Linked DNA regions of Homo sapiens. The protein of the gene in region 1 interacts with the protein of each later gene in a pairwise test. Each region holds a gene or a part of one and is shown on either strand. Other genes may lie near its edges.

What was found. Proteins that work in one complex are often made in the same cells at the same time.
Region 2: the proteins of SLC10A1 (region 1) and DERL1 interact in binary tests that used the Homo sapiens proteins (3 or more experiments, as listed by UniProt).
Region 3: the proteins of SLC10A1 (region 1) and TAP1 interact in binary tests that used the Homo sapiens proteins (3 or more experiments, as listed by UniProt).
Region 4: the proteins of SLC10A1 (region 1) and OTOP3 interact in binary tests that used the Homo sapiens proteins (3 or more experiments, as listed by UniProt).

Annotation. Positions count from the first base shown.
Region 1 is NC_000014.9:69,793,444-69,799,285, forward strand, and holds the start of SLC10A1 (hepatic sodium/bile acid cotransporter), read right to left. Parts: upstream 3,799-5,842; 5' UTR 3,713-3,798; coding exon 3,357-3,712; intron 1-3,356. UniProt on the Homo sapiens protein: As a major transporter of conjugated bile salts from plasma into the hepatocyte, it plays a key role in the enterohepatic circulation of bile salts necessary for the solubilization and absorption of dietary fat and fat-soluble vitamins.
Region 2 is NC_000008.11:123,012,484-123,015,492, forward strand, and holds the end of DERL1 (derlin-1), read right to left. Parts: coding exon 2,964-3,009; 3' UTR 687-2,963; downstream 1-686. UniProt on the Homo sapiens protein: Functional component of endoplasmic reticulum-associated degradation (ERAD) for misfolded lumenal proteins. Forms homotetramers which encircle a large channel traversing the endoplasmic reticulum (ER) membrane.
Region 3 is NC_000006.12:32,844,523-32,847,712, forward strand, and holds the end of TAP1 (antigen peptide transporter 1), read right to left. Parts: intron 3,154-3,190; coding exon 2,991-3,153; intron 2,683-2,990; coding exon 2,546-2,682; intron 1,979-2,545; exon of another isoform or gene 1,264-1,978; coding exon 1,057-1,263; 3' UTR 687-1,056; downstream 1-686. UniProt on the Homo sapiens protein: ABC transporter associated with antigen processing. In complex with TAP2 mediates unidirectional translocation of peptide antigens from cytosol to endoplasmic reticulum (ER) for loading onto MHC class I (MHCI) molecules.
Region 4 is NC_000017.11:74,948,189-74,950,678, reverse strand, and holds the end of OTOP3 (proton channel OTOP3), read right to left. Parts: intron 1,434-2,490; coding exon 1,263-1,433; 3' UTR 687-1,262; downstream 1-686. UniProt on the Homo sapiens protein: Proton-selective channel gated by extracellular protons.

The DNA of each region.
Region 1 (5,842 bases):
TTAAGTTCCAAGAGCACAGCATAGACCTTGCTTTTGGACATCTGTGTACCCCATTTAAGGGACTCGTTCGAGTGTCCGTCAATGCACAGATTGGAGGCAGAAGCTGAGGGAGCTGTGAGGGGCCTCAACACAGTCTCTATGAAGTGGAAAACTTCTGGGACCCCAGTGGCTTCCATCTTGTCCTGGTTGAGCTTCCTACATCATGGCTGGGAGACCTGTGGAAGTGCTTGGGTTGTGTCCAAGCCCATTGTCCCCATGGCCATTGGCTCTGGGCTCTGCTGTGAGTCCGATGGTGGCAGGGGGAGCAGATGAACTTGGGGCAGCAAGGATGGTCAAAAGAGGCCAGTTCCTGCTGGCATAGCACTCTCTTCTCTGTGCCTGACAAGCCATACTCACTTCAACTGTGAGGGCGTTTTCTCTTGCCTGTTTGTCACCTACATTTTTTGAAACTTGTCTAGTGGCCTTCCTTGAGGAGGGAGCTGCCGTCCCTGGCTGCATTGAGGGGTCTGCTTGGTGGCCTGGCCTCCTGGGATGGCAGGCTGTCCCCAGACTGACTCCACCTATGAGGCAGAGTGAGTGGAGGGAGACACAGTTTCCCACAAACTCTGGGAAACCTCTGGCAAGTCTCTGACCTCAGCCTCTTCATGTGTAAAATGGGATCTGTGTCTTACAATTCCTTCCAGTTCTAAATGGGATGTAGAGTATTGTGCTTATCTCAAACTGGGGCCTTTGGGCTACAGCTGGCCCTTTGACATGTATTGTTTGGTTTGCACATTTAAAAAAATGGAATGAGTTGCTGATTTCACATAAAATGGATATTTTACCTTCTTTTGAAAAGTGGGAAGCTCTGGCTCCCACACAATACTTGCTGCTGAGACACGGGTGTCTGCCCATGCCTTTGAGGCTGTCTGGCCATTTTGTTTGTGGAAATGCTGACCTGGAAGATATTTCAGTAAAAGCACAGGTTCCGGAGCCACCCAGACCTGGAGCCAATGTATTGACCTCTCTAAGATTCAGTTTCCTTACCTCTAAATGCTACTTGTTACATGCTGTCCCCCAGGGTGCTGTAGGAGGATCACATATACTTATCCAGGTAAGGTGTTTAGCACTGTGCCTGGCTGTTTCTTATAATCGTTGTCATTATTATAATGCATGTAACAAGTTGTCCCAAATTGGAATGGGATTTGAAGTCTGGCAGCACATGAAGGTAGATGACCAGATTCCCATTCCGACAGTGGGATCTGAGACATGGTTTAATGTGCATGGGAGGGTTGTTTGTTGGGAAGGAGTTTTATGGCAGAAGGTGGCTGTCCCAGCAGAGCTTATCTCTTGTGGGGGTCTAGGTAAAAATGACAGTCATCAGGGGTCTGGACAAGGAGGTTGAGCAGGAGAGCATGAGGGGTCATGTTCTTGAGTCACCAGAGGCTCTGCCTGGGTGGGGCCTAGAGCCACAGCAATGTAGGCATTGTGGCAGAGGCCTCAATAGTGGCCACTGGCGATGGGGCTGGGACATCTGGCCACTCACACTTAAAAGCACAGTTGCCTTCCACGTCCCCTGCTCTGCTTCTTCCACAGAAACACAAAGCCCTCAGAGTACCCCTTCGCAGGCCCCTGACTTCTGCATCCCTCATACACCAAAATTCAGATATACTCTAGGATTCTTGGGACACACAGGCTGCCATGAGCCTTGTCCAGAAGCCAGATCCAAGACCAAGGGCTTGCTTTGTAGCAGAGAGGATGTGGATTAGACAGAGGAAAGCATTTTCTCACAGTGAGGTAGTTGAACATTGAAATACCTTTCCGTGGGTGATGGCACAAGCCAAATGCCCTCTTTGTGCCTCTCTTCCCATTGACTACTAAAGTGAGGGCTGAATCATATGGAAAAAGAGCCCAGAGCTTCTCAGATGGCAGATCCTGTTAAACCCCAACTCTCATTCACTCTCACTTTTTTATTTCCTTTTTTTTTTTTTTTTTGAGAGAGAGACAGGGTCTCACTCTGTTGCCCAGGCTGGAGTGCAGTGGTGTGATCATGACTCACTGTAGCCTTGAACTCGTAGGCTCAAAGATCCTCTCATCTCAGCCTCCCAAGTAGCTGGGACTACAGGCATGTGCCACTATGCCTGGCTAATTAAATATATATGTATATATTTGTAGACACAGGGTTTTGCTATGTTGCCCAGGTTGGTCTTAAACTCCTGGTCTCAAGTGATCTTCCTGCCTTGGCCTCCCAAAGTGCTGGGATTATAGGTGTGAGCCACCGTGCCCAGCCATTCTCACTTTTTTCATTTAAAAAATCTGTCCCAGTGTCATTTTGCATCACTAGGAGGGGCTTCTTGACTGGGTTAGTTTTCCTAGGAAAGTTTGGCTAGGAGTAGGGTGCTGACAGACACAAGCAGATGGACTTTCTGGGTTCTGCTGCTATACCTGGCATTGAATAGCGTCTCCACGGAGGACTAAACCAGGGGGGACTGGCTTGAGACTGAGGTTTCACTGAAAGCAAGAGCTTCTGCTAGTGAGTTTTCTTTAGCTTCAGCACAGGCTGCTGGAGCTGGAGCAGGTCTGAAGTAGCTCCTCTGGCAGATGTTCAAGACTAGAGTCTCCCCAGTTTGGAAGGATGAGCATCAACCAGCCCCTGTGTGCTGCGTCTCCAGGAGCGAGCCCTTGCTGATTTCTGCTTATAATGCTTTGGGCAGGGGGTTAGGGGGTGCTGCTGTCTTCCCCTTATCAGGGTGGCTGAGATGGGGCTGGCCTATCTGGAGTGGGTGCTGGGAAACTCTAGGATCTCCCTGGTTGTGCCTTTGCATGGAAATGTCATTGCATCTGATGGGGAATGAGGGACTTTAAAGAGAAAACATCTTAGATGACCAGGTAATTGGGAGGACCTTTTGGAAATTCTTGCCCGCTTTGCAGGAATTTGAGGTGCTCATTTGGTTCCAAGTCACCTTGATCTCCCTGATGATGTTTGGAACGAATCACACTACCTTTTAAATCTCTGGGCTCAAAGCAGGCAACTTGTCCACTGTTGTAGGTGGATGCAGTTCTCCAGAGGTTCCTTTGGCTTTAATCAGTGCTCCTTTAAGACAATCCTTGAGACACCTCTGGAAGCAAGGAGATCACCACGAGCTTCCTGGACCAGTATGGTCCCTTTGGCTTGGTGCCTAAACCAGACGTACCCCAACTCCTGCCCCCATCCCAGCATAAGCTCTTGGCAATAAATGCCAGACTTCCCCTGCCCTAGCCTCCACCCAGCCTGCATTCACTCCTTTTCCTGGCTTTAGCCCAGCTCTTCCCCTCAATTGTGACATATCTAATGTAGCTCCTGTCCCAGGCTGTTCCCTCCTCACCCCCAGGCCTACCTGAGGTTCATGTCCCCCTTCATGGCCAGACTGAAGACATTGGACAGGTTCCCTCCAGGTGAGCAGCCACAGACCAAGATGGCCAGTGCCTCAATGTTCTTCAGCCGGAAGACCTTGCCCAGCACAAAGGCCGTGAGGGGCATGATGCCATACTGTGCCACCAGGGCGATGGCCAGCCCTTTAGGCTTCCATAAGTGAGCCTTGATCTTGCTGAACTCCATGGTGCAGCCCAGCGAGAGCATGATGAAGAACAACATGAACACCAGGATGACGCTCAGTGCCAGGTCTGTGGGGCGCTTGCCAAAGTTGGGTGGCAGGGTGAAGTTGAATGGGGCAGACGCGTTGTGGGCCTCCATCCTCCTGTGAGGCAGTGGAAGACCACTCCTTGTTCTCCGGCTGACTCCGTTTCTTGTGCAGTTCTTGCTGGATGCCTTCTTTAATCACCTCTCAGGACAGAGAGTTTCTGGACAAAAGCTCTGGGCAAATAGAAGGGTTATGCAACTATCTGAGCTATTTCTCTGGCTGTCGCCCCAAAGAGGAACAGCCCAGAACCTTATCTGCCTGCCCTAGCTCTCCCAAGCTCCCTGACCTCTGCTGGATTCCTGGGTGCTACTTGTACTCCTCCCTTGTCACTTTGCTGCTTCTGGGCTTATTTCTCCCCTTTGCCCTCCACTGAGTGTGCCTCATGGGCATTCATTCAGTTACTGGGGACCTGCCCAGGGCCCACCTGAATCTAGGTCCAGCCCATCTCCTTCCCTGCAGCTCCTTTTCCCAGCTCCGCTCTTGATTCCTTAGTTTCTTGGTTGGGGGAAGGTGCCCTCCCCATGTCCAGTGGGTTATCATTTGTCCCCAGAACCCATGAGAGTGAAAGGAGCTGGGTGTTGCCTTTGGTTCCTAGATACAGGTAGCATAGTCCAAGGGGGTGTGGGACAGGCAATGTCACTGGCCTCCAGGAGGGGATGTGTCCATGACCCTTTTCCTGGGAGCTGAGAGGATGCCAGTATCCTCCCTGCCTGTTCTGGGGAAATGTTTGTTTTATCCCCAAACTGGGACTGTATGAGTCCCAGGGAGGAATACTGGTGGTGGCTGCTCCACACTACCTGGAATGCTTACCATCAGAGGGAATAACCAGCTGGGATGGTGGGTGGGCTCTCAGGAAGCTTGGAGGCTCTTTCCCCGAAAAGCAACCTGAGAGAACCCTGGCTGTGGAGATTGCTTTGTGCCCGAGGAGGCCCATTGCTTGCAAAACTTGCTGAGAAGGAAGCAGGAATGCAGTCTTTTCTTCCTGACTTCCTGATTGCTTTACTTTTGCACTGGGCCTGTGTGTTTCAGGCTGGGAGCCAGGCTTGGGGCGTGGAGCAGAAGCAGAGAGAGGTGGGCATGCCAGGGGCGGGGCCACCTAGTGTGTGAGGTTATCCTAGGCCTTGCTCTTTCCATCTATCCCCACTGCAGAGGTGGGACAAGGGAGGAGGGGTCTCCTTCAGAAACACAATTGCTTCTTGGCTTGGTTGGAACCTAGGAGGCCTGGGTGGGGTCTGAAACAGGTGATTAGGCTTTGTATGTAGGACTCCAGAGGGCAGAATAGGGACCAGGGTGTGAACCACTGTTGGGTGGAGGTGGGGACAGATTTTGGCTTGGTGCAAGGAACCACCTGAAAATGAGAGCTCTCCAAGAATGGCCTTGAGGCCTCTGGAATCCTGCTTGGATAAGGGTTGGATGGCAGGATCCATACATATTGCATCATATCCATGAAAAGGCTGCTCCCTGGGCTTGCGCGGTGGGCAGCCTGCGGGGCCGTATACTGTGGCCCTGGGTGACATGAACTTGAAGCCTCTTTTCCTTTGAGAGTCTCTGCTAATGATTTCCTGGTGCTTGAGTTGGGCTGGTATCAAAGGGAGGGCAGGCAGAGGACTGGGCACTGGATGTGATGCCTGGACTGAGCGTTCCCACAGGGTAGGGTTGAGTCTCAGAGGAGGCTGCTTCCTCTCCCTGGGGCTAATCAGAAGGGAACAGAGTTGCTAGGGGAGAATTATTGATCACTAACTGAGTACCAGGCACCATGGGAGGCAAAAAAAATAAAAATAAATAAATAAAAAAAACTATATAATTCATGTTCCTGTTCTCAGGGACCTGATGGTCTGTACAAGACCACAGATGGCCAGATGGTACACAATGCAATATGGAAGCACGTGAGGGTGGAGGCCATGCAGGGCTGCCAGGTACACCTGTTCAGGTTGGGCACTACACAATGCTAGGGACGCCACTCTACAGATGTCTTGTGCAACCGTACATGAGGCCTTGAAGTCAAAGGGAGACGTTAGGTTTTTACACATTTGCCTGATGCCAAAGGGTGAGGAGGAATTGACCAATATCTGTTAAAGATCAGGGTCTGGGCATGTGTCTATTGTGCACATCCAAAGAGAAGAAGAGTTCCTATGAACACATTTGTAACCTGGATTCTAAACCACGTAGTCTCTATCAACTCT
Region 2 (3,009 bases), on another chromosome or scaffold:
GACAGGGAGGGAAGGTGGGAGGGAGGGTTAAGAAAGAAGTAAACACAGGACATGGTATTCCTGGCCAATTCTGATCACCAGTCACTCTGGAAGGCAAACAAGTGAACTGCCAGTAAACCCATTTGCTCAGCCCAGCCTTCTAAGAAAAAAACAGTATAAAGTCCAGAAAGGAGTAACTTCTTTCAAAGGTTAGTTATTCAGAGTGTTAAGTTACTGCTGAAAGTGTAAGAGGGGCAGGGACCTCAGAAACAGAGTTGGCAATAAACGAAGATGTTGGCAACTGCAACATTGCCTATTATTAGATCCATGTCATTCAAAAGGTAGCTTAGAACACAATGATACTGGCAATGTGTCCTTCTAAATAAGCGGGATCTTTTTCTATTGCTTCAGTATTTCCCCAGTAATAGAAGAGGGACATACATACAACCTGCTTCCTGTCACCTCACCTTGTGATGAGTGAAGTTGGCCTGTCGAAGGCCCAAGATACAGACTGGGATGTTCACCCTCGAGGAAAAAAAAAAAAAAGGGCTCAGGAATGTCATGGCACCTGCTATCTAGTCTGTGTGTGCCTTATGAGGAAACAGGATTAAACTAATTTTATAAAGTTCCAGGGCTCAGATCCATGGGTAGAAGCTATAAAAATGCCATAAAGCATGCTACAATCAGATATGACTCCTCACTCAAAGTTAGCAAGCATCCTCCTTCATTAAAATGAAAACCCAGGAATTCTGCATCCAGGAATTAATCCAGCAAAAAATACTGGGTACTTCCTAAATGCTCTTCAAGAGATAATTGGTTACACAAATTATGTGATATCTAAGAGACAGCAGAGCAGGGACATGGAAACTTAACACAGACAACCTTCAAGTTGCACATTTTAATTTACAATTTTTACCAATAAAAAGGATTAGTTTACAAAAAGGGAAGTCCTTTATACAAAATAAGGATTTTTTTTTTCCATTTGTAAAGAGAATCCACTGTCATGTTTTGCCTTGTCAAGTCAAAACTCAAATAGCTTGTTTTGGTAAAATTATTCCAGAAACATAATCCAGACAAAATCAATAACGTCATCAGCTTCCTAACCATGTTTAAGAGGAATAACTTCATGAACATTTTGCCCTGAACTGAAGAGTTCTAAATACTTGTAAACCTTTAGGAAAAAATGACTGCTCGCAGGCAGCTGACTGGTAAGAGGGTACACCAGAGACTCCGGGTCACTCACTGTCAGAATATTCTTATACATACAATGAGTCTCCACGCCTGTACAATGAGTGTACGTGCAACATAATTGGAGTAATGGCCTCTAAAATTTTACAAGTAAACTTTATTGTGGCCACAGATGAACAACAAAACATGACAGTTAAGGTTCAGACTCTCCCCACCTATTTTATCATATAAATTAAATATGGAGAGGTACACACAAACTCTATTCAAAATGAGAAGTTGTTTGCCAACTCTCATTTCCTAGGATAACACACATCACACTGTTTAAGAGTGGGGGAAAGAATAGTCATACTGTTAGAGCACAATGTTTCCTGAAAAGAAACTGATCAAAACGTTTGAAGCCTTTTTAGTTGCCTCAAAGTGTGACAGCCACTCAATACTGCTCCTAACAGTCTGCTTTCAGATAACGTCATAAAATAAAATAACTGTGTGAAAAGCCATGGCCTTCAAAAAACTTTATTTGGTTATGAGCCAAGCTCTGATAGGAAAAGCCCACCTACGAAAAAAAGGTGTGGGTATTTAAGCTGGTCTGATTCACAGAGCTTGTACATTCATGACTCAAAATAACACACCCTCAAACCCAAATGATTCTAAAGCCATTTCAACCTTAAATCATGTTATTCCCTTAGATGTGCTTACATTAGCTTTAAAAAATGATCTACGTGCAGAGAGGAGCTGCGCCTTCCTCACAATTAATTGAAACATGACCAAAAAACGGGGGATAGGCAAAAAAGTGACATTTAAATAGCGTATGAGGGTCTCTCCTCCTTTACTCAATGAACACATATCCAGAATGAGATTGAAATGGAATCAATGCCCAGGAGCCTCTCAAAGAGAGCATCTCCCTGTAGCCAACATGATCTGGATCCTCCTAACACAAAGCAACCCAACTACTCCAGCTACACAAAGCCAGTAGGCCTACATATGAAACGCAAAGGGGTTGCATCCCCCATGGTTTAAACCTAACCCATGTTAGCTGCAACTCCACTACAGTCTTGATCACTTAGCTCAGGAAACAAACACCCAGCAACAACCCTCGTATCTCATTAATACCAATCTGTGGCCCTCACTGACTCAGTGGTACTTTTTTATAAAAATATCTGAAGAAGTGGCAAACGGTTACAACGGATGTCAGGTCGAAGCAATTCCAAAAGCTGAGAAAACGCTTCATCCGCTGCTTGTCTTCTCCCCCTATTGCTACAGTTCTGCCACCAAAGGGGGAAAATTACGTGAATATGATTGTTGTGACCAAGCCTTGGCAAAAGTCAATAAATAACAGAACCTGTCAAGGGCAGAGCAATTTTATGGGCAACCTCTTCTAGTTGCAAATGTGGGGGTTGGGAAAAGTGGGAGAGAGGCATGTGTGCAAGAAAGAGATAAGGGTCCTTTTGGGAAGGGTTTGGTGACCCAGCCCCAGCTCAATGCCAGCAGACTAGGACCCGCTAAAACCCATTATTCAGACGGAAAGGGGAGAAGAGAAGACACCAAAAAATGTAGTCAGTTTTGCAATTTGCACAGTTGGTATTTGTTCTTCACAGCAGTAAGGACTTGAATGAGAATCGTGAAACTTGTGGAACACTTATATTTTTCTTCGGGATTTAAGAAACTTTGTCTCGTACTGAAAGACTACATTCAGTGTGGGTCAGGTCCAACAGTGTTAGCCAGAACGCAGTTGTTAAGTGCACCCAGCACTGGGAGGAAATGTGGCTTGAGAGGAGCGGCTGCCCGAGGCCGCCCCTTCACTGGTCTCCAAGTCGAAAGCCCTGGCCCCAGTTGTGTCTCCCG
Region 3 (3,190 bases), on another chromosome or scaffold:
CAGGGAGAGGGCGCAGTCTCTGAATCTTTCCACGGGGTCCATCCTAGGGCCCCTCCAGGTTCAACGGTCTCCTAACCTGTAGTCACCCACAAGAGCGTGCCCTTTCTGCCCGCCCTTCCTAGCGTTGCTCCCTGCTTGGCTGAGCACTGCGGAGTTTCACGCCTCTAAACCCCGCCTCTTCTTGCAACCTGTGTTGGCCTCATCTACCCAGCAACTGTCGACGTCACACGACCTGGGCCTCCCTGAATGGGAGATATTTACTAGGCAATCCCGCCTACTGTTCTGAGGTTTCCCCTCCAGGTGCAGCTTCAGAGCCAGGCGAGCCAGGAAGGACCAGCGGGCGAGGTGGTGAGTTGTGAGGCGCGCCCAGTCCCTCTGTTCCCGCCTGGCACTTGCTCTGGCCGCGCCCGCCCCATCTGCCACTTCGGAGAGGCCACGGCTCTGAGCTGCGGCCGCTAGTGCCCTGATGGGCCCTGTGGCTGGGGTCTTGCACATTCTTGGGGGTGGGCCTAAGGGGATAGGGGAAGTGGAAGGGGCCTCATAGGAATTAAAAAGCTTAAGGGAAAAGGTGATGCAGTTAGGGGGTAAAACATTGAGGATGATAAAAGAGGAGACATCCGCAGCTGAAAAGTGCGCTGCAAAAGGCAGTGGGCCGTTTGGTGTGCCGGAAACATAAGAAACCACAGTACAAAACACCAATTTTATTATAAATATCAAGAACCTACAGGGTGTTTATGGGCCAGCATATGCCTTCAGTTATGTTGAAAATAGCTGATCATCTTTCCGTACATTCTGAACATTTCTCAGTTTCAGAGTGCTGGCCACACCAAAGCATCAGCCCTGGCTCTAAACTCCGTTACAGTAAGGAATTACAAATCCTGTGTTTGTACTCCAGGAAGTCTGCATTATCACGAGGAGCTTGGAAAGGAGGTAACACACTCAAGGCAAATTTCAAGTAACTCATCCTGGAGGCAGCTGCCTACTCTGCAGCTGTGGTTCTCCACCACAGAGAGAAGAAAAGGGAGGGAGATGGAGTGCGCAGGTCTGAGAAGGCTTTCATTCTGGAGCATCTGCAGGAGCCTGCACCATGGCCCAGTAGCACCCCTTTTTCTCCATGAGCTGCTGGTGGGTTCCCCCCTCCCGGATAGCGCCTCCTTCCAGAAAGAGGATGTGGTCAGCCTGCTCCACCAGGCTGAGGTGCTGGGTGATGAGAAGCACTGAGCGGGAGTACCGCTCAGGGCTTTCGTACAGGAGCTGCTCCACCTGAGGAAAGACATCGGACCGTCAGAGCCGGGGACTACCCTCAGCCCAGGGAGACACCTGTGTTTCCAGGGCTGGGACTGACCTCACAGGATCACTGCTGGCTCTGCTAACAACCCCAAGGACACCAACGTTTCCCATTCTGAGTACTTCTCCGCAAACCCTTTGTTTCATTAAGGACTGTTTTACATGAAGGGTGCAAAAGTAGGATAAAAATGAGAACCCTAGGGTGAAACACGTGACAGAAGAATAAAGACTATTGAATAGTCCTCTTCTCTACCCATGGACTTGGCATTTTTATATTCGATTTTAAGGAAATATAACTTAGTAGTAAAGAGATGAGCATTCAAGTCAGGCAGACCTGAATTTGGGTCAAGGCTGCGCCACTCAAAAGCTATATGACCTCTATATGAGCAGCTTATTCAACCTCTTTTAACCTCCATTTTGTCATCTGTAGAATGATGATAAATGCCTAGCTCAGAAGGATTCCTAATGAATAAATGAGTGACAGTGCATGTAAACAGACTAGCTTAATTAATATTAATATGATTAGGATGGGCTGGGCCCGGTGGCTCATGCCTATAATCCTAGCACTTTGGGAGGTCAAGGAGGGAGGATCACTTGGGCCCAGGAGTTCAAGGCCAGCCTGGGCAACATAGCGGGACGCTGTCTGTACAAAAAATAATTTTTTTAAATAAACGATATTATGAGGATGGTCTTTTCCTTATGTTTCGCTTTAGAAATTCAGTCTATAGGACTGGGCGCAGTGGCTCACACCTATAACCCCAGCCCTTTGGGAGGCTGAGGGGGGCAGATTACCTGAGCTCAGGAATTCAAGGCCAGCCTGGGCAACATGGTGAAACCCATCTCTACTAAAAATATAAAAGTCAACCAGGCATAGTGGTGTACACCTGTAGTCCCAGCTACTCGGGAGGCTGAGGGGAGAATCGCTTGAGCCCAGCAGGTTGAAGCTGCAGTGAGCCAAGATTGTGCCACTGCGCTCCAGCCTGGGCAACTGAGTGAGACACTGTCTTAAAAAAAAAAAAGGAAAGAAAGAAAGAAATTCAGTCTGTAGTTTGTAGATAGTCTCTTTTAACTGATTCTAGGTGTCTTTGCCTCGTCTTCTATCTCTACTCCTTGGGGAGGCATCCAATGGAACTGGATTTGGGAACTGAGAACTGCAAGGACTGGTTTGTATAATTATGATGTTAGTAAAACTAACAGAAGATGTATAAAAGAAGCAAGATTGGGTGGGATATAGCCATTAAGAAGATGACTGCCTCACCTGTAACTGGCTGTTTGCATCCAGGGCACTGGTGGCATCATCCAGGATAAGTACACACGGTTTCCGGATCAATGCTCGGGCCAACGCCACTGCCTGTCGCTGACCCCCTGACAGCTGGCTCCCAGCCTCGTCTACCTCTGCAGAGCAAAGGGCCAAGATGAGAACGGTATAGCCACATGTGTGCACGCATGTACATGCACACAGACACACTCATGCATTCACGCACTCACACACACCAAGATCTGACGGTTGTAGCTGGATAGGGGAGATTCTGGGAAGATGAACAGAATCCTGAGGATGTCAGGATGAAGAAGCCATAGGAGCATGATCTTACAACTTCAAATTGATGTCCATGAGTAAGGAGGAACTGAAGGATAAAGGCAAGACTACTGGGGTTTCAGCAAAGGTAAAGATGGCTGGGTGGTGAGATGAGTGGAGAGAGTACCTGTGTCATAGCCCTGAGGGAGTCCAGAGATGAAACTATGGGCCCCAGACTTTACTGCAGCAGCTGTGATTTCCTCCATAGTTGGCTTCTGGGTCAGGCCATAGGCAATATTTTCTTGAAGACTTCTTCCAAATACCTGTGGCTCTTGTCCCACTGCAGCCACCTGAGATGAAATATGATGAAGAGTCATAGAACAAGGC
Region 4 (2,490 bases), on another chromosome or scaffold:
TCTGCACCCCAGAGGGCCCCCAGTGCATGACTGGGAACCAGCATTTGTTATTTTCTTGGGTGGGAAAGCAGGATCAGACCCTGTCACCTAGGGTTTGGGCCCCTGGGCTGTTGCTGCCCAGAGAAAGAGCCCACAGGAGAGGCCATGGGGCCTCACCAGGCAGCCACTGAGACAGCGCTGGGAGGGCTATGCTTGCTAGTGACTCACTTCGGTGGGGGTGGGTGAGGAGGAGGGCAGAGCCTCACCTGCAGGGCCAGGGCTGCCCTCTCTGGCCTCGTCCCAGGCAGAGCCCACTGTTTGCACTGGGCTCAGGGAGACGGATGGCCTGCCACACCTGCCCTTTCTCTTCCGTTCCTGCCCTACCTGATGGCTCAGGAGATGAGCCAGGCCTGGGACCGGCAGCCAGGGGCCACAGCCTGCATGGTGAGCCCGCTGCAGAATGTCACCGGGGGCTCTGTCCTAGAGAGAGGGTGTGCTGGGGAGGGGTGGGGGTGGAGAGACACGAGCCCGGACTTGTCTCTCCCACCTCTTCCCCCGGATCAGACCAAGGAAGAACTGGGTTAGACCCCTCCTGGCCCGGAAGCAGGACTGTCCCAGCCCCACAGCCCTACTCAAAAGGACCATTCCTTCCCACCATGTCCGGAGGAGCAGTTCTGTCCCTGGGAACAAATGCCATGAGCCTGAATGCAATCCATTAAACAAATAGGGTTTATGCGGCAGGAGAGAGCTGTTGAACCCTGCCTGGCAGCCAATGAATGAGCTCATTAGGAGACAGGTGTGTGGGGAGAGGAGCTGGCCTCCTAGCTCGGAGCTCTGAGCTCTGAGGATGTCCAGAGCCACACTTGGACCAGGTGCTCTTCTCGCAGCAGGGGGCAGACCTCTGAGTCCTGGCTGGAGAGGGGTGCCCCTCGCCAAGCTCCCCAGACTCGGTCATGTAGGTCTGACCCTCCCACAGAGTAGCCGTGAGGGGGCCCCTGCCAGCCTCCTGGGGTGCACCCTTGGCTTGCGGATCGTGGTGGGAAGGCAGGGGGCAGGCATGTGCCCAGGCCTGGCCGTGGGCATCAGAAGCTCAGTGTCCAGGCCCCTGCTGTTGGCCTCTGGCTCTAGGCAGTGCCCTCCCCTTCAGTGAGGCTCTGGGGAGCAGGAGGCCTTGAGAGCCTCAGGCTGGTCTCGGCACCTCAGAATGAGGCATCTGCTCAGAGACTCTGGGCTACCATCTTCCCCACCTTGGCACTTCGAGGTTCTGCCGGGGGTGGGCAGCCTCAGGCCCCCAGGTAGACCTCCACCAGGCCTCCCACAGAGTGCATGCGGTAGAAGACCCCCAGAGGCAGGCCGAAGTTGACGATGGCGAACCATATCTGGTAGCCGTAGAAATCCTTTTCTAGCCCGTTCTCAAACTCCGGGTGTATGCCAAATGCAGGCATCATCCACAGCTGGGGAAGAGGATGTGCTGAGTTAGGGAAGGGCTCTCCTGTGCCCCAAGGCACTCAGTTCAGGGGAGGCAGCCCCCAAACCTGCAGCCCCTCCAGTGCCACCCCCACCTCCCGCTCAGTCTTCTTCTAACCCTTGGGCTTTCAGCGTGAGCTCTTCTTTCCCCCAGATCTTTCTCGCCCTACTGCAGAAGGCCTTAGCTATCCCCAGCCATCTCTGTGAGCTTGCCTGTGGCCAGCCTGAACTTCAGATGGGTCAGGAGACCCCAGGCTGCCGCCACGTGTGGGGAGAAGCAGGAATTCCCAGCGCGCCACCTGCTCTGTCAAGCTGGGCACCCCCACCCTGTACCCTGAGCTCGGGCTTCACTCCTCGGCTAGCTACTTTTTATTTTTATTATTTATTTATTTTTTTGAGACAGGTCTCACTCTGTCACTCAGGCTGGAGTGCAGTGGCAGGATCACAGCTCACTGCAGCCTCAACCTCCCGGGCTCAAGTGATCCTCCCACCTCAGCCTCCCAAGTAGCTGGGACTACAGGCATGCACCATCATGCCTGGCTAATTTTTATTTTTATTATTACTATTTTTTAAGATACAGAGTCTCACTCTGTCACCCAGGCTGGAGTGCAGTGGCACGATCTCAGCTCACTGAAACCTCTGCCTCCTGGGTTTGAGCAATTCTCGTGCCTCAGCCTCCCGAGTAGCTGGAATTACAGGTGTGCACCACCATGCCTGGCTAATTTTTGTATTTTTAGTAGAGATGGGGTTTACCATGTTGCCCAGGCTGGTCTCCAACTCCTGGCCTCAAATGATCCACTCACCTCAGTCTCCCGAAGTGCTGGGCTTACAGGCGTGAGCCACCGTGCCCAGACTAATTTAAAATTTTTTTTGTAGAGACAGGGTCTCCCTGTGTTGCCCAGGTTGGTCTTAAACTCCTGGGCTCAAGGGATCCTCCTCCCTCGGCCTCCCAAAGTGCTGGGATTACAGGTGTGAGCCACTGTGCCCTGTCATTTCTGCTAGTTATGACCCCCTGCCCCCTCCTACCTTCCTGTCCAAATTCTA